2 separate regions of the Homo sapiens genome follow, and region 1 is linked to region 2. The links come from fine-mapping of genetic effects on gene expression. A gene starts in region 2. The other region holds a variant in brackets. All regions are shown on one strand. Distances are from middle to middle.

Region 1 (12,363 bases), 63 kb after region 2:
AGGTGGAAGTTGCAGTGAGCCAATACCGCAGCATTGCACTCTAGCCTGGGGTACAAGAGCGAAACTCCGTCCCCCACCCAAAAAAAAGAAAAAAAATACTTAAAAGTAAATAAAGTAGGCTGGGCGCGGTGGCTCACGCCTATAATCCCAGCACTTTGGGAGGCTGAGGCGGGCAGATCACAAGGTCAGGAGATTGAGACCATCCTGACTAACATGGTAAAACCCCGTCTCTACTAAAAATACAAAAATTTAGCCGGGCATGGTGGCGGGGGCCTGTAGTCCCAGCTACGGGGGAGGCTGAGGCAGGAGAATGGCGTGAACCCAGGAGGCTGAGCTTGCAGTGAGCCGAGATCGCGCCACTGCACTCCAGCCTGGGCGACAAAGCGAGACTCCATCTCAAAACAAAACGAAAAAAAAAGTAAAAAAACTTAACCAAGGAGGCTAAAGACACTAAAAACTATAAAATGTTGATGAAGGAAATTACAGACACAAATAAATGGAAAGACATCCTCTGTTCACTGATTAGAAGACTCACTATTGTTAAGATGTCAATACTACCCAAAGTGATATACAGATTCAAGGCCATCCCTATCAAAATCCCAATGATGTTTTCCACAGAAATAGAAAAATCCATATGGAATCTCAAGGGACAGAAACAGTCAAAACAATCTTAAAAAGAACAAAGTTGGAGGGCTTACACTTTCTGATTTCAAAACTTACTACAAAGCTACAATAATAAATCAGTTTAAGACTCGCATAAAGACAGACCTACAGTCCAAGGAATAGAATAGAGATCCCAGAAATAAACCCTCACATGTATAGTCAACTGATTTCAACAAGGATGCTAAGACCATTAGATGGGGAAATGACAGTTTTTTCAACAAATAACGCTGGGACATCTGGATAATCACAAACAAAAGAACAAAGTTTGGCCAGGTGCGGTGGCTCACGCCTGTAATCCCAGCACTTCAGGAGGCCAAAGTGGGTGGATCACCTGAGGTCGGGAGTTCAAGACCAGCCTGACCTATGTGGAGAAACCCCGTCGCTACTAAAAATACAAAACTAGCTGGGCATAGTGGCGCATGCCTGTAATCACAGCTACTTGAGAGGCTGAAGCAGGAGAATCGCTTGAACCCAGGAGGCGGAGGTTGCAGTAAGCCAAGATCGCGCCACTGCACTCCAGCCCAGGCACCAAGAGCGAAACTCTGTCTAAAATAAAAAAAAAAAGAAGTTTTTTGCTTATATTACACCATATATAAAAATCAACTCAAAATGGATCAAAGACCTAATCATAAGAGCTAAAACTTCAACTCTCAGGAAAAGACATAGCAAGCTTCATGACATTGGATTTGGCAATAATTTCTTGGACAAAAGCACAGGCAACAAGAGAAAACATAGATAAAGTAAACTTCATCAAACTTTAAAACTTTTAGCTAGGAATGGTGATGTGCACCTGTAGTTCCAGCAATGTGGGAGGCTGAGGCAGGAGGATCGCTTGAGCCCAGGAGTTTGGGACTAGCCTGGGCGACACAGCAAAACCCCATCTCTAAAAAATGAGAGTGGCAAAGGCCTTGAGATGTTTCCCTAAAGAAGGTGTACATGTGGCCAGCAAGCACCTGAAAAGATGCTCACCATCACTATCGTTACGGAAATGCAAATCAAAACTACAGTGAGGGCAGGCACAGTGGCTCATGCCTATAATCCTAGCACTTTGGGAGGCCGAGGCAGATGGACTGCTTGAGCTCAGGAGTTCAAGACCAGCCTGAGCAACATGGCAAAACCCCATCTCTACAAAAAATATAAAAATCAGCTGGGCGTGGTGGTGCTTTTCTGTAGTCTCAGCTACTTGAGAGGCTGAGATGGGAGCACAGCTTGAGGCCCAGGAAGTTGAGGCTGCAGTGCCTCCCGCCATTGCACTCCAGAGCCTGGGTGACAAAGTGAGACACTGTCTCAAAATAAAAATAAAATAAAAATAGTCTGGGCGCAGTGGCTCATGCCTGTAATCCCAGCACTTTGGGAGGCCAAGGAGGGCTGATTGTTTGAGACCAGGAGTTCGAGATCAGCCTGGGCAAAATGGTGAAACCCTGTTTCCACCAAAAATACAAAAATTAACCAGACATGGTAGTGCACACCTGTAGTCCCAGCTACTCAGGAGGCTGAGGTGGGAGGATGGCTTGAGCCTGGGGTGGGTGGAGGTTGCAGTGAGCCGAGATGGCACTACTGCACTCCAGCCTGGGTGACAGAGCCAGACCTTGTCTCAAAGAAAAAAAAAAAAAAACACAGCGAGATACCACTTTGTACCCTTTGAGCTGCCAAGAATGAGACAAAAATAAATAAGGAAAGGGCATAACAAAAACCTCAAACTCATTCTCCTGTACACATACTGCAGTATCTTTGCATCTATGGAACAGGAAGAATCCCCATAGGAGGCCACTGACACTACCCTTCCTCTATTGATCTCTGCAGGCACCTGAATATGGCTGAGTTATTAGGAGCTCTTGGGTCCTTGCTAACGTTGAGTAATTCAGTAAAAACAGGTGTGATAAATTTCTTTTCATAGAGGTTCTTCCAGTCATTCATGTCATCAACAAAAATGCCCTGTACCCAGTATGATGCTGGGGACATAAGGGTGGGGGCCTGGGCTCAATCCTTGCCCTCCAACAGTTCTAATGTCAAGTCAGGGCAAGCCAGAGAGTCAAGGTGTGCTGACTCAAAATGGGGAATTCCCTCAGGAAGTGAAGGCTGAGCCAAGGCCTGGTAAAGTAAATGACAGGAGAAAGAGGATCATGGTCCACTCAAAAACAGCAGAATGTGGGCCAGGCACGGTGGCTCACGCCAGTAATCCCAGCACTTTGGGAGGCCAAGGCAGGTGGATCACGAGGTCAAGAGATCCAGACTATCCTGGCCAACATAGTGAAACCCCATCTCTACTAAAAATAAAAAAATTAGCCGGGCGTGGTGGCGGGTGCCTGTAGTCCCAGCTACTCGTGAGGCTGAGGCAGGACAATCACTTGAACCCGGGAGGCGGAGAATGCAGTGAGCCGAGATTGCGCCATTGCACTCCAGCCTGGCAACAAAGCTAGACTCCGTCTCAAAAAACAAACAAACAAACAAAAAAACACAGCAGAATGTGAAAAGGCATAGAGGCAAGAAAGCAGCCACGTGGTTGGGGAACTAAGAGAAGTTTAGTATGACTGGGTTACAGTCTGGGCAGACCTAGAAAGACAGACAGCTGGATCTGGAAATGGGCTGTGCATGCACAGCCTGCATGCTAGCTTAAGGAGTCTGAACTTCATGAGAGGTAAATGGGAAGCCACAGAAGGGGCTAAGCTGGGGATGGTGGCTTCAGCCTATAATCCCAGCTACTTGGGAGGCCAAGGCGGGAAGATCATTGGAAGCCAGGAGTGCAAGACCAGCCTAGACAACATAACAAGACCACCTCTGTCTCTAAAAAAAAGAAAGGGTACAGCTGATCAAACAGCTGATATTTGAAAAATGGATTGAAGAACCAAAACTGGACACTTCCAGAGTCATTCCCATGGAAGATGACAAGGGTGGGACAGGAGCAGTGGGATGATGTGGAGACAGGCAAGTGCTCTTTAGAACACAGTTAATTTATTGGGTGGGGGAGGAGCTAGAGAAGCCCAAGACACTGCCCAGCACAACCAGGCACCAAGGAAAGGTCAATTCTCTGAGACCCACTTGGAAATACTGGAGCCAAAGTGCTCAGTCAGAGTTAGCAGCAGCCATTCTCCAGCTGTGCTCTCTAGCCCTGGCATTGATGCCACGCACACACATCTCAGAACACAGCTCCAAGGAGCAAACACAGTTTACAATCCTAGACTCCAATCTCACCTCTGCCACTGAGTTCAACACATGCCCACTGGCATGTCCCATGTGCTCTCAGAGCCTGCTTTATCAGCTATTACCTTGAGGCTGGAGAGCCCCCAAAGCAGCCATTCAACAGGATCAGACAAACGAGCACCTGAGCGCAGTGCCGGAGGCTGAAGGTGGATGATGGGACAACCCCACTTTGTCCATTCATTCATACACTGGAGGATCTTCCAGCATCAGGATCTGGTAAGGAAATGAGGCCATTCTGGAAGGCCTGGATCTCAGGACATCTAAAACAAACACCTGTTTACTTGAGATTACCAAGGAGAAAGGAGGTGAATATTTGCTTCCTTGTTGGTAATGGGCCAGGCTATGCTAGAAACACTCACAGATACAACCTGCCTGGGTCAGCCTGGGAGGGAGGGCGGCAACAAGGGCTTTTACTCCCGGAGCAGGTGACTAGAATAGATAGAGCAGCTTAGCTCCCAACACTTCTCTACCAGGGCCTTCTTTTCTAACTGCAGGATATATTTCAGGAGCTGGGGAGAGGGAATTATTTACGCTATGACACAGGTGAAAGTAAGGTAAAGCCATCTGATTTACTCCTTTCTTCTATATGGCAGCAAAGTGGAGAAGAAATATCATGCCAGAGAGGTGAGACAGGAAGCACAGAGAGGCAACAGACAAGCTCTTCGTGGCAGTGAGGCCATGAGTAGGCCTGTAACTTCTCAGTTCCTACCGTTGCCTGCCAAAACCACAATGCAAGGTGGAGATACGAGAACAGCTATTCTGCCCTATCTAGCTCAAGAGAGAAGAGGGCAGCAAATAGGCACTGCTTGGGACAAGTGGAGTCGAGATCCACCAGAACACAAGATAGAGAAGAAGCAACCGCACCTGGAAGCAGGCAGCAAAGGCCCACAGGTGTCCACACTCACAAATCCACCCAGAAGCTCCCACTATCCACTGCAACTGGCAGGGGGTCCATGCTGCCACCCGAGCAAGGGGGTCCACCCAGCCCTGCCACCCGAGCTCAAGTCTGCTGAAACCCTGCAGTCATGTGGAGAGCTGCAAGCACAGTCCAGTCCTCTTGGATTCCTTTTTCTCTTTGCTTTTCCAGATTTTCTACAACTAACACAAATTACTTTTTACAATTTTTAAATTTTAATTTCTATTTTTAGTTTTTATTTGAGACAGGGTCTCACTCTGTCTCCCAAGCTGGAGTGCAATGGTGAGACCTTGCTCACTGCAACCTCTGCCTCCCAGGCTCAAGCCATCCTCCCACATCAGCCCCCTGAATAGCTGGGACCATAGGTGAGTGCCACCACACCTGGGTAGTTTAGAGATGGGGATTTGCCCTGTTGCCTAGGCTAGTCTTGAACCCCTGAGCTCAAGCGATCAGCCTGCCTTGGCCTCCCAAAATGCTTGGATTACAAGTGTGAGCCACCGTACCCAGCCAATTATTTTATTTTATATTTTATTTTATTTTATTATTTTTTTAGAGACGAAGTCTTGCTCTGTCACCCAGGCTGGAGTGCAGTGCCGCGATCTTGGCTCACTGCAACCTCTGCCTCCCAGGTTCAGGCAATTCTCCTGCATCAACTTCCCAAGTAGCTGGGACTACAAGGCGTGCGCTACCACACCCAGCTAATTTTTGTATTTTTCAGTAGAGATGGGGTTTCACTATATGTTGGCCAGGCTGGTCAACTCCTGACCTCATGTAATCCGCCCAGCTCGGCTTCCCAAAGTGCTGGGATTACAGGCATAAGCCACCGTGCTGGGCCAAAAATCACTTTTAAGAGCCATCTCTTAAAAGCCACTTTTAAGAGCCATCTCTTAAAAGCCACTTTTAAGAGCCATCTCTTAAAAGCCACTTTTAAGAGCCATCTCTTAAAAGCCACTTTTAAGAGCCATCTCTTAAAAGCCACTTTTAAGAGTAATGGCTACATACTGCAGAGGTTTTTGGCTCTCACTCATCAGACTCTCTCTGGATCACCCCAGGACATTTCAGTGATGGGGGACACATTAGGGAACGTGGCTTTCACAGTCAGCTCCTTGGTCCACCTAGCACCCCGAGTCTTGACAGAAGGGCAGAGGCTGCATCACAACAGTACAGCTTCAGAAACAGTCAAAATCCTTGCTGAGCAGAGGCCCTGAGGTTCCGGCTCACATGGCACCTAGTATGTCCCAAGCTGGGCACAGAGCACACACGCAGGAGACCCTGCTGCAGTGAGACAGATTTGGCACAGCTCCAACTGACTAGAGTTTCTTCTGCGACCCAGGCAGGCCTGGTGGTGGACAGAGGACAGAACTTTAGAAACCAGGGCCACCTGACTCTCACACCTCCCAGATATGTACAAGGCCACGGGAAGGAGACGACCCCTTTACTGTACTCTACCACCCAGTCCTGATAACAAGTTTGAGAACCCTGCACAGAGAACCCCTTTGGCAACAAGTCTGACTTCCCCTCCTGCCTCCTGAAGAGTTCTGAGGTGACAAGAACACTTCACAGCAGGGCTCCAAACACAACACCCTTGACTCTAAAAGGCTGGTCTCAGACACTCCAGCCTAATTCAAGACTATGGGTCTTAGATTTCAACCCACATATCAGGTTCCTTATTAGAGGAGGAAAGGTTAAACCAAAGGCTCCTAAGCTCCTTCCCAGCTTTGACCTAGACTTCAATTCTTCACAGAAAAATGTCTGTGCACATTGTAAATGTGCAGTGCCCAGATGCAAACCCAAGATGAGGAAGACCCTGGAACAGCAATCAAAAAGCCACTAAGAAGACATCAGGCTGAGTGCGGTGGCTCACGCCTATAATCCCAGCACTTTGGGAGGCCAAGGCAGGTGGATCACAAGGTCAGGAGTTCAAGACCAGCCTAGCCAAGATGGTAAAACCCCATCTCTACTAAAAATACAAAAAAATTAGCCGGGCGTGCTGACGGGTGTCTATAATCCCAGCTACTCGGGAGACTGAGGCAGAGAAGTGTTTGAACCTGGAAGGTGGAGGTTGCAGTGAGCCAAGATGGCGCCACTGCACTCCAGCCTGAGTGACAGAGAGAGAGACTCCGTCTCAAAAAAAAAAAAAAAAAAAAGACATCAAAGGAAAAGAAAGTTATAGAGCAATATAGATGAATATAGATGCAAAAATCCTTAATAGAATAGTAGCAGACCAAATCCAACAGTGTATTAAAAGGATTATATACCACAACCTAATGGGATTTATCCCAGAAAGGCAAGGATGGTTCAACATAAGAAAATCAGGTGGAGGCCGGGAGAGGTGGCTCACGCTTGTTAATTCCAGTATTTTGGGAGCCCAAGGCGGGTGGATCATTTGAGGTCAGGAGTTTGAAACCAGCCTGACCAACATGGTGAAACCCT[A/G]TCTCTACTAAAAATACAAAATTAGGCCAGGCCTGGTGGCTCACGCCTGTAATCCCAGCACTTTGGGAGGCCAAGGCGGGAGGATCACCTGAGGTTGGGAGTTTGAGACCAGCCTGACCAACATGGAGAAACCCCGTCTCTACTAAAAATACAAAATTAGCCGGGCGTGGTGGCCCATGCCTCTAATCCCAGCTACTCTGGAGGCTGAGGCAGGAGAATCATTTGGACCTGGGAGGTGAAGGTTGCGGTGAGCCAAGATCGAGTCATTGCGCTCCAGCCTGGGCCACAAGAGTGAAACTCCATCCCAAAAAAAAAAAAATTAACCTAGCTTGGTGGTGTATGCCTGTAATCCCGGCTACTCGGGAGGCTGAGGCAGGAAAATCGCTTGAACCCGGGAGGCGGAGGTTGCAGTAAGCCGAGATTGAGCCATTGCACTCCAGCCTGGGTGACAAGAGCGAAACTCCATCTAAAAAAAAAAAAGAAAAAGAAAAGAAAAGAAAATGATCTAAATATAAGAGGTAAGGCCCTGGGCCAAAAATCTGGCACTGGCCCAGTAGCACTTAAAAAAAAAAAAATAGGCTGGGTGCGGTGGCTCACGCCTGTAATCCCAGCACTTTGGGAGGCCGAGGCGGGCAGATCACCTGAGGTCAGAAGTTTGAGACCAACCTGGCCAACATGGTGAAACCCCATCTCTACTAAAAATACAAAAAAAGTAGCCAGGCGTGGTGGCAGGTGCCTATAATCCTAGCTACTCGGGAGGCTGAGGCAGGAGAATCACTGGAACCCTGGAAGAGGAGGTTGCAGTGAGCCGAGATCGTGCCACTGCATTCCATCCTGGGTGACAGATCGAGAGTCGGTCTCAAAAATAAATAAATAAATAAAAAAGAAAGAAAGAAAGAAGGGAGGGAGGGAAGGAAGGGAAAAACTAAAATAAAAAGGAAAGAGCCAAAACCATAAAATTCTTAGAAGAAAGCGTAAGGGTAAATCTTCATGACCTTTGATTTCACAATGGATTTAGAGATGATACAAAAAGGATGAACAAAAAGAAAAATACATGAATTGGACTTAATTAATATTAAAACTTCTGTGCATCAAAAGACATCATCGGGGCTCATGCCTATAATCCCAGCACTTTGAGAGGCTGAGGCAGGCGGACCACTTGAGGTCAGGTGTTCGAGACCAGCCTGGTCGACATGGCAAAACCCCGTCTCCACTAAAAATACAAAAATTAGCCAGGTATGGTGGTCCATGCCTGTAATTCCAGCTACTCAGGAGGCTGAGGCAGGAGAATCACTTGAACCCGGGAGGCAAAGGTTGCAGTGAGCTGAGATCACACCACTGCACTCCTGCCTAGGAAACAGAGTGAGTGAGACTCCATCTCAAAAAAAAAAAAAAAGCCAGGCACAGTGGCTCACGCCTATAATCCCAACACTTTGGGAAGCCAAGGTGGTGGATCACAAGGTCAGGAGATCGAGACCATCCTGGCTAAAACGGTGAAACCCCGTCTCTACTAAAAATACAAAAAATTAGCCGAGCATGGTGGCAGGCGCCTGTAGTCCCAGCTACTCGGGAGGCTGAGGCAGGAGAATGGCGTTAACTTGGGAGGCGGAGCTTGCAGTGAGCGGAGATCAGAGCGAGACTCCATCTCAAAAAAAATAATAATAATTAAAAAAAAAAAAAGACATCATCAAGAGGCCAGGCATGGTAGCTCACATCTGTAATACCAGTGCTTTGGGAGGCTGTGGAGGCAGGAGGACTGCTTGAGCCCAGGAGTTCAAGACCAGCCTAGGCAACATGGCAAGACCCCATCTCTACAAAAAATTTAAAATTTAGCCAGTCATGGTGGCATGCACCTGTAGTCCCAGCTACTTGGGATGCTGAGGTGGAAGGATCACTTGAGCCCAGGAGGTTAAGTCTGCAGTGAGCCAAGATTGCACCACTGCACTCCAGCCTGTGCGACAGAGCAAAAATCCATCTGAAAAAAATAAAAATAAAAATAAAAAATAAGAGAGTGAAAAGACAATCAATGGAATAGGAAAAAGTATTTGCAAATCATAGATCTGATAAGGGTTTAATATCAAAAATAAAGAATTCCTATAACTCAACAACAGAAAGACAAACAACCCAAACAGGCAAAGGACTTGAACAGACATTTCTCCAAAGAATCTATACAGATAGCCACATACAATAAGCACATAACAAGATCCTCAACATCACTAGTCATTAGGAAATGCAAATCAAAACCACAATGAGTTACCACTTCATACCTAGAATAGCTATAATTTAAAAGTTCCAGGTCAAGTGCAGTGGCTCACGCCTGAAATTTCAGCACTTTGGGAGGCCGAGGCGGGCAGATCAGTTAAGGTCAGGAGTTCGAGGACAGCCTGGCCAACTTGGTGAAACCTGTCTCTACTAAAAATACAAAAATCAGCCAGGCGTAGTGGTACACACCTGTTATTCCAGCTACTCAGGAGGCTGAGACATGAGAATCACTTGAACCAGGGAGGTGGTGGTTGAAGTGAGCCCAGATCAAGCCATTGCACTCCAGCCTGGGGGATAGAGCTAGACTCCATCTCAAAAACAACAACGAAAAAATAGAATAAATAGGCCAGGCATGGTGGCTCACACCTGTAATTCCAGCACTTTGGGAGGCCAAGGCAGGCAGATTACTTGAGGTCAGGAGTTTGAGACCAACCTGGCCAACATGGTGAAACCCTGTCTCTACTAAAAATACAAAAATTAGCCAGGCGTGGTGGCACATGCCTGTGATCTCAGCTACTCAGGAGGCTGAGGTGGGAGAATCACTTGAACCCGGGAGGCAAAAGTTCCAATGAGCTGAGATAGCGCCAGTGCACTCTAGCCTGGGTGACAGAGTGAGACTCTATCTCAATCAATCAATCAATCAATCAATCAAAGTTCCAGCTACTTGAGAGGCTGAAGCAAGAGGATTGCTTGAGCTCAGGAGTTCAAGACCAGACTAGGCAAGACAGCAAGGCTTTAAAAAATAAAAAAATGAAGAAAGAAATAAAATAAATGTTGGCAAGGATGTAAAGAAATTGGAGCCTTCACACACTGCTGGTGGGGATGTAAAATGGTGCAGCCACTATGGAAAAGTTCGGTAGTTACCCAAAAAAGTTAAATAAAAATTATCATATGACCCAGCAATACCATTCTTAGGTGAACACCCAAAAGAACTGAAAATAGGAACTCAAACACTATGTACACCAATGTTTGCTGCAGCATTATTCACAATAACCAAAAGGTGAAAGCAACCTAAGCGTCCATCAACAGAAGAATGGATAAACAAAATGTGATGTATATATAAGTACAACAGAATATTATTCAGCCATAAAAAGGAATGAAGTTCTAGGCTGGGTATGGTGGCACATGCCTGTAATCCCAGCACGTTGGGAGGCTGAGGCAAGAGGATCACTTGAGGCCCGGTGTCAAGACCAGCCTGGGTAACATAGCGAGATTCTGTCTCTAGAAAAAAAAAAATTTTTTTTTGAGATGGAGTCTCGCCTGTTGCCCAGGTTGGAGTGCAGTGGTGCGATCTTGGCTCACTGCAACCTCCACCTCCTGGGCTCAAGTGATTCTCCAGCTTCAGCCTCCCGAGTAGCTGTGACTACAGGCACATGCCAACACACTCAGCTAATTTTTTTATTTTTAGTAGAGACTGGGTTTCACCATGTTGTCCAGGATGGTCTTGATCTCTTGACCTCATGATCCACCCGCCTCAGCCTCCCAAAGTGCTGGGATTACAGGCGTGAGCCTGTAGTCCTGAGCTCAAGCAATCCTCTTGCTTCAGCCTCTCAAGTAGCTGGAACTTTGATTGACTGACTGATTGATTGATTGAGATAGAGTCTCACTCTGTCAGCCTGTAGAGCCACGCCTGGCCTCTACAAATTTTTTTTTCTTTTGAGACAGAGTCTTGCTCTGTCGCCCAGGCTGGAGTGCAGTGGTGCGATCTCGGCTCAATGCAAGCTCCGCCTCCCAGGTTCACACCATTCTCCTGCCTCAGCCTCTCGAGTAGCTGGGACTATAGGCGCCCGCCACCATGCCCGGCTAATTTTTTGTTGTATTTTTTTAGTAGAGAGGGGGTTTCACCATGTTAGCCAGGATGGTCTCGATCTCCTGACCTCGTGATCCACCCGCCTCGGCCTCCCAAAGTGCTGGGATTACAGCGTGAGCCAGCGCGCCCAGCCCTTTTTTTTGTATTTTTAGTAAAGACGGTGTTTCAACATATAACCAGGATGGTCTTGATCTCCTGACCTCGTGATCTGCCTGCCTTGGCCTCCCAAAGTGCTGGGATTACAGGCATGAGCCACCGCTCCTGCCCCCAAAATTTTTTTTTAAATTAGTCAGGCAGGACGCGCACAGTGGCTCACACCTATAATTCCAGCACTTTGGGAGGCCGAGACGGGCAGATCTCTTGAGGTCAGGAGTTCGAGACCAGCCTGGCCAACATGGTGAACTCCATCTCTACTGAAAATACAAAAATTAGCCAGGTGTGGTGGCACACGCCTATAGTCCCAGCTACTTGGGAGGCTGAGGCAGGGGAATAGCTTGAACCGAGGTGGAGGCTGCAGTGAGCCAAGATCACACCACTGCACTCCAGCCTGGGCAACAGAGTGAGACTCCGTCTCAAAAGAGGAAAAAAAAAAAATTATCCAGGCAGGCCGGGCACAGTGGCTCACGCCTATAATCCCAGCACTTTGGGAGGCTGAGGCGGGCAGATTACTTGAGGTCAAGAATTCAAGACCAGCCTGGCCAATATGGTGAAATGCCATCTCTACTAAAAATACAAAATTTAGCCAGGTGTGGTGGTGCACGCCTGTAGTCTCAGCTAGTCAGGAGGCTGAGGCAGGGGAATAGCTTGAACCTGGGAGGTAGAGGTTGCAGTGAGCCAAGATCATGCCACTGCACTCCAGCCTGGGCACCAGAATAAGACTCCATCTCAAAAAAAAAAAAAAATGTACCCAGGCATGGTGGCATATGCCTGCAATCCTAGCTACTACTCAGGAGGCTGTGGCTAGAGGATTTCTTGAGCCTAGGAGCTCAAGGATACAGTGAGCCATGATTGTGCCACTGCACTCCAGTCTGGGCAACAGAACAAGACCATATTTCTTTTTTTTTTGAGATGGAGTCTC
Region 2 (12,363 bases):
TGCACCAACCTATTGAAATTGCATGCCAGGAAACAGAGACAGAAGACCAAATATGTATTTCACAATATCACAGCCACTGACCGTATGAACTAGCTTTTCATTCTCTAGTGTTACACATTTATGACATTTTCATTTTGCTTCCTGTTATACAGGTTAAGAAATTATGGTCCAGAGGCCAGGCAGGGTCACTCCCAACTGTAATCCCAGCACTTTGGGAGGCTGAGGTGAGCCGATCACTGAGGCCAGGAGTTCAAGACCAGCCTGGCCAACATGACGAAACCCCATCTCTACTAAAAATACAAAAATTAGCCAGGCATGAAGGCGCACACCTGTAATCCCAGCTACTCGGGAGGCTGAGGCACAAGAATCGCTTGAACCCAGAAGTGGACATTGCAGTGAGCCGGGATTGTGCCACTACACTCCAGCCTGGGAGATAGAAACACTGTCTCAAAAAAAAAAAAAAAAAAAAATTACGATCCAGAAATTACACGATTTGCCTAAGGTTATCATCCTAAGTAAAATACAATTATGAAAGTAAATAATAAAGATTTTGAGGTTATAAAGTGATACAGTAAAATCTCAAAGCCAAGTAGAAGTGTTTTGGGTTCTATTTTGGGGTTATCTATTCTCATGAGAAATTGAGAGCTGACAATTTGAGAGTAGCACAGTTATCCCAGGCCAGAAAGGAAGACCACACTAAGTACTCAGTTCCCATTTTTCACAGTCTTCATTCCAAATCCTTGATTATAGAGGACTGATAGAAATCTTTACAGAAGCTCTTGGGAATGACTTAGAAAGGTGGCAGAGAGAGTGAGCTATGTTCCCACGAATTTCAGGACTATCCAGGGTCCCAAAGAGTATATACATTTTATCACTGGCTACCTTGAGAAATGACAGTACCTTGGACAAAAACACTACTTGCAATTCCTTTCTAAGAGCAGGAGCTAGCAAACAAGTGCTTAAGGACAGGGTTCAAGGGTACTAAGTAACATGGAAATATTCGATTCTTCCTTCTTAATGTTTAATCCATATTTTCTTTCTTTTTTTTTTTGAGACGTACTTTCGCTCTTGTTGCCCAGGCTAGAGTGCAATGGCACGATCTTGGCTTACTGCAACCTCTGCCTCCCGAGTTCAAGCAATTCTCCCGCCTCAGCCTCCCTAGTAGCTAGGATTACAGGGACCCGCCATCACACCCAGCTAATTTTTTGTATTTTTAGTACAGACGGGGTTTCACTATGTCGGCCAGGCTGGTCTCCAACTCCTGACCTCAGGCGATCCACCTGCCTCAGCCTCCCAGAGTGCTGGGATTACAGGCATGAGCCACCGCGCCTGGCTCTAATCCATATTTTCTAAGTGTTTATTCACATCACCATGAGAGAAAATTTTTTTTTGTCTTTGAAGACAAGGTACTTCAGTGAGCTCATTCCCAACCCAATGTCTAATTTATAAGGAGGTGTTAGAGTGTAGGGAATTCTTCCTGCTTTCATGTTTTTCTCAGTATCTCCTACCATTCTAACTTTCATGAACCCAAGCTTTTCAAGTGTCTTTCATTCTCACTTTTTAAAACACCTGCCATTTAAATTTTCAAGTAATAAGGACTTTTAGACTCCAAATTTCAGTTTGCTTTTAAGTTTGCTAATATAAATCTACTACTTTTGAATGCAAGAAAGATAATGTTCCATTACTATACTGTATATAAGTTCTCAAAAATAGCAAAATCTCCAATTCCATTCTTTCCTAGATGTACTCTAATTCCAATTGTGGATTTGTTCTAGAATTGGACCCCCTGTTATAGAGACCCCCATCTCTACAAAAAAAAAAAAAACTTGTTTTATTAGCTGTCTATGGTGGCATGCACCTGTGGTCCCAGCTACTCAGGAGGCTGAGGTGGGAGGATCACTTGAGCCCAGGAGTCAGAGGCTGCAGTGAGCTGTGATCACGCCACTGTACTCCAGGCTTGGTGACAGAGCAAGACCCTGTCTCAAAAATGAATAAACATTTAAAAATAAATATGCATGAGTGACTTTTCAGGCATCAGAAAGGCACTTTTCCTATTTCTAAGTTAGTGGTCTCTCTGATCCTGTGTTTTCTGAACACCGACCTCTGCATTTCAACTTCTAACATCAGATGACATTGCATCCCCATTCCATTTCTCCTCTTATGGGAAAACTAGAAAATCAGTTCAGTGAAAGTAGCTTCTATTAGCATTGCTGGTTTATCTGGTAGGGTTTCCTCATGGTTGGCCTGTCAAACACTGTTGATTACTTTATTACAGGCCAGATATGATAACTGCCCTCAGCTGCTCCAGAAAATGGCATAGAAGTTAAGTAATTATTTGTCAAAGGTTTCACTGTCATAGCAACCAGGACTTTTGAGAGTCCTCTGTAAGTCTACCTTTCTCTGAAAACAAGTGTTTTTCTGATTGGAGTTCAGAAAACTCACACAAATCCACAGGTCACACCACAGCCGTATTTAAGCAGTACCCTCTCCAAAAGCTCATTCAAAGTATTTGTGCCCACGTTCAAAACACCCTCCCACAGTCCATCCAGTTCCACAGGTGGCAACTGCTCCCTTCCATTTTACCTTGACTTGATTTTGGCCTACTTGTCTTACCTTCCTCTGGGTCAACGTGAAAGTAATGAAGGTTTCTGCACAGAACACAATGATTTTCATGAAGCCTTTCTGACAGAATTTGGTTAACAGTACTGATTTTCCCCAGAGGTTACATTTGCTTTTGATAATGCCCCATTATAACTCCTGAGGTATTTATACAAAATAACCCCACAGGTGCAAGAAAAGTTGGTAAAAAGCACAGTCACAATACCCATAGTTATGGTATGATGCTGAATTATGAAGCCAAGACAAAGTTTTCTTCTTCTTTTTTTGTTTTTTGAAACAGAGTTTAGCTCTTGTCCAGGCTGGAGTGCAATGGCGCGATCTCGACTCACTGCAAATTTTGCCTCCCAGGTTCAAGCGATTCTCCTGCCTCAGCCTCCCAAGTAGCTGGGATTACAGGCGTGCACCACCATGCCCCGATAATTTTGTATTTTTAGTAGAGACGGGGTTTCATTATGTTGGTGAGGCTGGTCTCAAACTCCTGACCTCAGGTGATCCACCCACCTTGGTCTCTCAAAGTGCTAGGATTACAGGCATGAGCTACTGCGCCCGGCCCAAAGCTTTCTTCTTTAAACTGATTTCACCTGTTAACATTATTATACTTCCAATGTATCTTCTTATAAGGGCAAGGGGAAAAACCTGCTGCAAAGTCAAATGTAAATAGAAAATTAGTTTTTATCAAGCTAGGGACAAACTGACTTTGATGATTAGAATCAGGGACCATCTTTTAAAAATCACATAGTTCTAATTTTTAAGTTTTGGGTCAGAGGAGGCTTTCTAAAAAATTGCTAGTTCTACTACCAATGTGTTCTAGTATTACTATAGAAATCAGATAGCAATTGCCCTAGCAAATAAAAATAATAATGAGGGCTGGGTGTGGTGGCTCACACCTGTTATCCCAGCACTTTGGGAGGCCAAGGCAGGCAGATCATCTGAGGTCAGGAGTTCAAGACCAGCCTGGCCAACATGGTGAAACCCCTTCTCTACTAAACATACAAAAATTAGCTGGGCGTGGTGGTACATGCCTGTAGTCCCAGCTACTCAGGAGGTTGAGGCCAGAGAATCGCTTGAACCTGGGAGGCGGAGATTGCAGTGAGCCGAGATCGCACCACTGCACTCCAGTCTGGGTGACAGAGTGAGACTCCGTCTCGATAGATAGATAGATAGATAGATAGAGAATTAGACCCAGACCAATGATTATTCCATGGCAAAGTGGGAAAACCAGGTGGTAAGAGATAACCTCTCACAACAGAATCTTTATCTGTGAAATAAGGATTCGACCAACAGAACCGTCTGTTGAAAATTTCCTCTCTTGGTCCAGGCAGGTTCTCTAAACTCCCAATCCCAAAGCAGTTAATTTTTTCACGTTTCCTGTAAAATGGATGGCCTTAAAACTCTTTTGTTCTCTAGTGTAGCTTTCCAGAAGGAAATAAGTTTCCTTATCAAGAATGAATCTAGCTTCCCCGACTCAAAAACAACCATCTTCTCTATATTGCTCCATATCACAATAAATTTAAGTGCCTTCCTTTTCTAAATTAAATGCTGTTCCCTTCAACTTAAGGGCCACACACTAAGGGCTATTCCTTTAGAGGCTTTTGGGCCCCACAGATCACAAAGGTGGTGCCCTGCCCTAGTTCTTTCTGGACATTTAAAAGGACATCCACTTTCTTGCCCTCAGGATAACATTATGGGAACAATGAACATAAATAAGACAGTTAAATAAGCTTCCCTGATGCCTATCCAATACAGCTTTCAACTCTTCTATCCTGCCTTGTTCTTTAGATCGTGCTGTAGTCTGGAGGGTAAACTCTTCACACAACCATTCCCAAGCCCTCATGTCCCTGTCCACTCTTCCTCCCTCACCTTTTAAGTGTGATAGGGCCTTGATGGGAAGACCTCACTTCACCTTTTGTCTCAAGTCCATCTGCTTCCTTCCAGAGCTACAAATACAAAGGTAGGCCAGGGCCATTGAGACGTGGCCATAGGGCACATGGGAGCTGGCAGAGCCACTCGCACCTTCTGGGGTGTCCCTTCTTCCACCTGTCAACTGAACACCCGTTTCTTAAAGATTTATCCCCAAAAGTCCCATCTCATTCTGAAAGGGGACGAACCAGCTACCCCACGAGCCCTTTGTCTGAGCTTCTACACCTCACACATCCTCATCCACAAAGCGTCCATCCTCACACAGTCAGGTGGTCCGCTCGGCACAGGGCGGGGGAGACTAGGTTTTTGCATCTGGTAAAAGGATGGGTTATGTCTCAGGTTCTTCCAGGATCCCAAATCCTATAATTCTACCACCAAGCCTGCGGGTCCTATTTCTGCGGTGGAAAGGGCGAATCCCAAGGCGACCCTCCACTCCACGCGCCTGCAGGCAGTTGGAACAAGCCCCCTCCAACCCCGGCTCTGCGGGTCCACGCCTCCAACCTCCGGCGCCGGGCCGCGGAGAAGGCCCTGTCGGCGCCCGCTCCCGGCCGCGCCATGCCCTCTTTCGCCCTCACCCGCCACCGGTGGCCGCCTCTCACCTGGCACGCTGGCATCGCCCACTCCGCGCTGCACTGGAAACCATGGGTCCGACGGGGTCTCGGGGGCCACCCATCCGCCTTAAGGAAGGCTGGCGGGGATGCGCGGGCCCGGGAGTCCAGGGCGCCGCCACCGGGAACGCGCCGCCTGGTTTCTAAGGAACTGGGGGCTCTGGAAAGGGAGGGGCGGGACGGCAGGAGGACTGCGCATGCTCCATAACGGGGATGGGCCTGCGCTGGGAGGGGCCGTAGCCGGGAGCTGCGCATGCTCGCTTTTTGGGGGCGGAGCTTAAGCAGCCTGGCTAGGAGGCTCAGGTTATTCATTTCCGGCGGCGGAGGCGGCAGTTTCCTAAGCTTGGCTTCTCTCCGGTCCGCTGACCGGCGTCAGGGACCAGGTTTTGGTAGCTGTGGGTAGCCTCAGTTGTCCTGGAATGAAAGACGGTTTCGTGTTGGACAAGGACATATCTGCAGAAGGCCAGTTCTCTCGAACTCGTCGGACTTCCTGGCTCCCTGACCCCCAGTGACTCGTTTTTCCGTTTTCTCAGGTGCCTGTCTGGGCTCCTCTTCCTCTGGATGTTTTTTGATTGTTCCTTAAATATCAGTGCTCTTCAAGACTGTAACCTCAGTCCCCTTGGCCTCTTTACTGAAGCCTATGCCCCACCAAATAGCAAACTATCCGCTAGAGTAAGGAAGCCGTTAGACCTTAGAATAAAACTGCCTGTGTAGGAAATGTGATTGGGGTTTGTATCTGCATGGGGAGCCCCCGTCCCTGCTTGTCTGACCCTCCTGCTGAGTATCAAGATCCCCACTCAGCTGGCATTAGGATGATCTCCCAGCCATCATTCCAGAGCAGCCTGTGGTGACAGAATATGTCAGCTGACCTAAGCGTGAGGCAGTTCCTACTGAGATATGCTAACTAGCAGCAGAGCTATCCCTGCTTTGAGCGGAGACAGGACTCCTACCACCTCTGTGAGGAGCATGGAAGGCTTCCAAAGTGATGAGAAGTTGTAACCCCTAAACCCCCCCTCTTCTGATGGGATTTTATCCTTTCTCTCCTGGATCCTCTAGAGCCAGGCAGAAGGAAGGCAGAGTCAAAATGTGCCTGTTTGATCTGTTTCTTAGTCATTGTTCGGAGTTCCACTCTTCTTGAGTAGGATTTCTCAACAGTGGCACTATTGACATTTTGGACCTGATAATTCTTTGTTGGGCAGGGGTGGGGGGAGCTGTCTGCATTGTAGGATGTTTGGCAGCATCCCTGGCTCTACCCAGTAGATGCCAGTAGCACCCCAAGCCCAGTTGTGACTACCAAAAATATCTCCAGACATTGCCAAGTGTCTCCCTGGGAGCAAAATCATTCCCAGTTGAGAACCACTAGTCTAGGGGGAAATGAGCCTACTCTGGCTTTACTTATATAGAACCAGGACTTTATGCTTAATCTAAAACCCATATTTTCCCCTTTATGCTACCTCTTCCCTAAGAGCATTCTATAGAGTAATAGTCCTGTAAGATTCTGCTGAGTGACACAGTCTGTAGTAACTTAAGTTTGGAAAGTGCAGGGTTAAGCAACACATTTTAACACAGGATTGAGCTTTTAATTAGCTGGTGGCGATCACTGTGAACATCCATAAGACAGTTTTCCTAATTTACTGGACCACCTCCCAATTCCAGTGACTTTTTTACTGGCAAACCTCCCCTAATTTACTGGCAAACCTCCCAATTCCAGTGACTTTTAGCCACTGCCTGCCCCCTTCTGTTCTGTGTTATTTTGTGGTACTATTATCCATCCCATCACCCCCAACCAAAGTCTGCATTTGCCTTGTCTCTTGCTTCTCCTATTTCCCTCACATTCAGTTATTCATCTTGTACCTCCAATTCTCTCCTAAATCTTTCTCAAACCTGCCCTCTTTGCAGCCTCCTACCTGGGTTCTTTTGCTCCAATTTGTCTCCAGTACCACCTTCAGGTGGACACCAGCATGATCTACCGTATCCCTCCTCTGCATAAAACCCTGGTGCCTCGGGGACAGGGCAGGCAGGAGTGGGCCAGTCACACCACTGGGCATCCTCATGGAGGAAGGATGCTCATGTGTACTGTGTGTATCCCTGTGTGCCAAACACTGCTGTATATCTGCCATAATCCTCTACCTCCACGGGGCAGAAGGATTTACCATGTTTTAAGGATGGGGAAACAGTCTCGGAGAAAGAGGTTAACTTTCCATGTTAACACAGTAAACGGTGCGAGGATTTTGAAACAAGCTCTTGCTCCTCAGGCAAGAGACAGGAAGCTAATTTCAATACCCGTCAGGCTGGGTGCCGTGGCTCACGCCTGTAATCCTAGTACTTTGGGAGGCCAAGGCAGGAGGATTGCTTGAGACCAGGAGTTCGAGACCAGCCTGGCCAACATGGTGAAACTTCTCTATAAAATATACAAAACTTAGCCAGGCATGGTGACACATACCTGTAGTTTTAGCAACTTGGGAGGCTGAGGTGGGAGGATCACTTGAGCCTGGGAGGTTGAGGTAGCAGTGAGCCATAATCATGCTACTGCACTCCAGCCTGGGAGAGAGAGCAAGACTTTGTCTCAAAAAAAAAAAAAAAAAAAAAAAACCCAAAAACAAACTCTCAAAAGAGGTACCCCCAGAAAACTTTCTGACTGTGCAGTATTTGAGGCGAGCATATTTGGAATTTTATTTTTTATTTTTTTAGGCAGGGCCTTGCTCTGTCATCCAGGCTGGAGTGCAGTGGCGCAATCATGGCTCACTGCAACCTCAACCACCCAGGCTCAAGCAATCCTCCAGCCTCAGCCTCCTGAGAAGCTGGAACCACAGGCAGACACCAACATGTCCAGCTAATTTTTTCTATTTTTTGTAGAGGCAGGGTCTATGTTGCCCAGATTGGCCTCGAATTCCTGGGGTCAAGCGATCCTCTTGCCTTGGCCTCCCAAAGTGCTGGGATTACAGGCGTGAGCCAATGCACCTGGCCCTGGAATGTTTTTGTTGTTGTTGTTGTTGTTTTTGAGATGGAGTTTCACTCGTCACCCAGGTTGGAGTGCAATGGTGTGATCTTGGCTCACTGAAATCTCTGCCTCCCAGGTTCAAGCGATTCTCCTGCCTCAGCCTCCCTAGTAGCTGGGATTACAGGCGCCCGCCACCACGCCTGGCTAATTTTTGTACTTTTAGTAGAGACGGGGTTTCACCATGTTGGCTAGGCTGGTCTCAAACTCCTGACCTCAGGTGATCTGCCTGCCTTGGCCTCCCAAAGTGCTGGGATTACAGGGTGAGCCACTGCACCTGGCTCTGAAATGTATTCTTAATACCTTATTTTTGTGGGGAAAAGTTCCTGTGGCCCACCTTTATTTAGTTGAATTTTTTTTTTTTTTTTTTTTGAGACAGGGTCTCACTCTGTCACCCAGACCGGAGTGCAGTGGTATGATCTCAACTCACTGCAGCCTTGACCTCCTGGGCTCGAGTGATCCTCCCACCTCAGCCTCCTGAATAGCTGGGACCACAGGAATGCGCCCCCATGCCCAGCTAATTTTTGTATTTTTTGTAGAGATGGGGTTTTGCCATGTTGCCCAGGCTGTTCTCGAACTCCTGAGCTCAAGGGATCCACCTGCCTCAGCCTCCCAACGTGCTGAGATTATAGGCGTGAGCCACTGTGCCCAGGCTCTTTAGTTGAATTTGCTACTTTTTCCTTGTATAAGAAGAAAGCCGTTTCAAGAGAGAACTGAGGTTTAAGTACCTGTCCTCTTTGGGGTCTTACAAATACACAGTTTCAAAGGTCCTTGAAGAAGGCACCTGAGGGCCTGGGCACTTGAGAGGCTGGGAAGGGCCCAAATCCTTTAGGACAGGATGTGTCACAGAAGGGGTGCCAACCTCAGTAAGACTCAAAACAGAGACCAGACACACATGACTGCTCATGGATGTGTATTTTAATAAAAATAATTCTGTCAAAATACAACAGAGTTTTTTTTTTGTCTCTCAAGTACAATTTTAATAAGATGTTTTGTGTTAGAGTTCTCTCTCCATCCTCCCACACCCACAAGTTTCATGCTAATGCCAAGTATCAACTCTTGAGGACAAAGGCAAAACCAGTGTGCACAATGTGGAGGATGTCTGTTGCAGCTGTAGTTACTAATGCAGGAAAACCCAATGCAAAGAGGAAAATGCCTGAGGCAGCCAGAGGCCACAATCTGGCCACAGGTCTGGGTGCATGAGACTGGCAGTCTAGTAGGGCTCCGCTGCCTGGCTGCCACATGGGTGCATACCTGAGTTGTGAGCAACCAAAGGAACTTTCAGCTCTGACAATTCTCTGCCTCATCTTCTTTGTGCTTGCTTAAGGAGTGGGAAGGCGCTAGGTGGCCAGGCAGTCCCCACTTCTGTCTCGTGGTGTCCATTTTGATGGCCTGCACCCAGCCACAGACCCATGAGGATGGGGATGGGGGTTCTGGCTTGCTATGAGTGCCAGTTTTTGCTCTGGAAGGAGTGACCATTTGGTGCCGCAAGGGGAAAGTGAGTAGGGAAGGCTGCTCCCCAGGGCCGGACAAACCAAGAAAGCCAGGTCTTCCTCCTGCCTCCATGGGTCAGGTCCAGCCCTTCACCAGGGCTCCCCCAGGTGCCTTTCCCACTCTAGGCTCCTGGAAGCAGGCTGGTAGGACTGGATGTGCATAAGGGGCACCTCTGGCTGGCAGGCAGGCAGGCCTGGACTCTCAGCAAGAGAGTGGGCTCAAGCAGCTTGGTTTTGGCCCTCTCCACAGCTTGTGGGGCAAAGGCTTATGTCCCAAAGGTGAGCTGCCCAACTGGGACAGAGAGCCCCTCTGGAGAGGAACAGAGTAAACAACTTGGACTCAGCTGAAACAGTGAGATAAGGCACAGAAAATGGGGAGGTGGCCATGGGTACCAAGTGCGAGCCAGGCAGACACCCAACCCCATGCAGCACACAGCTGTCCCGAGCCCTCCTGGGCCCTCTCAGCCACTCCACAACCTAAGCTCAGGCACCCGTCCTCATCCCTGACACACCCCTGAAGGTAGCAGCTTCTCAGATACTGCTGGAGGGCACATCAGCCTGACCCCTCATGGGGTTTATCTGCCATTCGGTTTCAGGACTAAATAGTGTTGCCCAACCCACAGGGATAAGGGATAGTCCCGGCTCTGCTACTAATTTGCTATGTGACTTTAGCCAAGTCACTTAATCTCCTGGGCCTGTTTCCTTATTTGTAGCAAGAGAGGAATGGGGGAGATGTTCACTGAACCCCATTCCAGCTGCAAAAGCCTGTGGTTTTAATCCAATCCTGCTAGGCTATGATCATTTAAACAGCCTGATGTCTCCAACTTCTGGGTTTGGGAGCTAGGTAGCCCCAGGCTGTCACAAGAGATGAATTTCCTTTACAGACAGGACGCCTCCTAACAGGCCATGGTCTATGGGTCTGCCAGCCCCAAGGACCAAGAAAAAGCAGCAGCTATAGGATCATTTCCCAAGGCAGAATTCTGACAGCACAGGGCCCAGGGCCCTGGCCCCATCACCAGCAGTTGGTCCAATTCAAACATTTTTCTTGTTGCCCAGCTGTGGGCCCAGTGAGGCCTGGTGAGCAATGGGTATCTCAGGCCACACCAACCATTCCCATGTCCACCAATATGGAGCAGGAGCTTGCAAAGCCCAGATTCAGGCAGGGACTGAAAGTTCAACTTCCGGCCTTGCCATGGCTGACCCTACTCTTTGCATGGGCGGCTTGTGCACTCCCCTCACAATGTGAAGCACATATGGAAATTCCAGCCGTCCTGGTGCTCCTCTGTGTAGACTTCCTCCCTTTCCTCCTCCAGGGCAGCCAGTCCTCTCCACAGGTGGGCCACCCCAAGTCCTGGCAACCATCTCAGTCTTTCCTTTCCTGATTCCCCAATGGTAGCGGGACCACTTTTACTCTGCCAGCTGTAAGGATCTATCTGAAACAGCTGGTGGGACATGTGTAAAGCTGATAGAGTCCCATTCTCTGGCCAGCAAATACTCCCAATAGTCTTTCCTAAGAGTGGCTAGGGCCCAGCTGCAGGGAGCTGTCTGGCACAGTGGCAGTGAAGTCTGGCCTAGGGGACCAAGGATTCCATCCACTCCCTGGAGTAGCAGCCCAAGAACCTGCCTCCACAAGGTACTGGTTTCTCAACAGAAAGCATCCATTCTCTCAGAGCTGTGCAGAGATGGTGAAGATCTAGGCAGGAAGAAAGCAGCCCCTGTACTCAAGGGCCTCTGTCCTGGGAATGGAGTCTTCTTTCCAGCAGCCTGACACACAGAAGCTCTCAGGACGAAGGCAGGTAGTTTCCAGGCAATCAATTTAGAGTAAATGTATTATTTGGCCATCTTAACAACAAGGGAAGATAGGGTATTGAAAAGGGAGGAAAGGGGAGCAAGGCAGGCAGTGGGAGGTGGGGTAGAGTGGTAGATAGTGTGCTGGCCAAGGACCCTCTACCTCTGCTGTGTGGCCCTGGGCCAAGTTATCACTTCTCTGGACCCTTGGCCCTGTAGTTCTCTGCTCTGTCCAGCTCTCAGGGGCCTAGGGATCTACAGTTCTTGGGATGCTATAAACCAATGTAACCATGCCCACTAAGTGGCCCACCAAACCCTATTTGGGTTTCCTAGGCTGCAGCTCGGCCTGTGACTCAAAAAAGGGGGAGCAAAAAATAAATCACTTGGCTGAGGTGACAGAGATTCTTCTTTTTTAATGAGTTGGACTCAAAGAAAACATGGTGCCTGGACAGCCTCACCCAAGAGGTGCTGGACCACTAATGCTACGATAAATACTGTCTTTTTTTTTAATATATATATTTTTATATATATATATATAATCTCATTTGTTTTTTACTTATGAAAATAATAAGCTATCACCAACTTGGATAGGCTTCATCACTAAATTAGCAGAAACCAGCTCAGCACAAACTCTCCAGAGATAAATACTGGTGGCTCAGTCAGGAGAAAAAAATTTAAAAACCCCAACCCCTCCTCAAAACAAAACCCCCCTTTCAAAATAGAAGGCGCTACATGAGAGTAACCAGCCAATACTGTGTTACAGGCCGCTGCACGTGAAGGGGAGAGAGAGAGAGACTGAGCGGGGTGGTGGGCAGAGAAAGGAAGGAAGGAAGGAAAGGGAGAGGGGGAAAGGCCAGGCAGGAGGAGTGGACTCTGTCTATGGTTTCCCAGTCCCTGCACCAGTTGCCTATGGAGGGCAGGGCAGCTCCAGCCCTGG

Evidence for each region. PIP is the estimated chance that this variant, and not a neighbour inherited with it, causes the effect.
Region 1: its variant is fine-mapped to the expression of GFOD2 in sun-exposed skin (GTEx, PIP 0.97). The same link has a PIP of 0.9 or more in unexposed skin.

What each region holds. Positions count from the first base shown.
Region 1 is chr16:67,777,138-67,789,500 of GRCh38, forward strand. The region is part of intron 2 of RANBP10 (RAN binding protein 10); the gene reads right to left. Among named protein-coding and RNA genes, the nearest start is that of RANBP10, 23 kb to the right of the region's middle. RefSeq lists an enhancer at 4,323-4,472. The variant A/G (reference allele first, on the strand shown) is at 7,214.
Region 2 is chr16:67,714,025-67,726,387 of GRCh38, forward strand. It overlaps GFOD2 (Gfo/Idh/MocA-like oxidoreductase domain containing 2), which reads right to left and starts at 5,292. Exons shown (of 3, transcript NM_030819.4): 1 at 5,139-5,292. RANBP10 (RAN binding protein 10) reads right to left here. Exons shown (of 14, transcript NM_020850.3): 14 at 9,046-12,363. RefSeq lists an enhancer at 4,610-4,689 and silencers at 5,050-5,099, 5,160-5,209.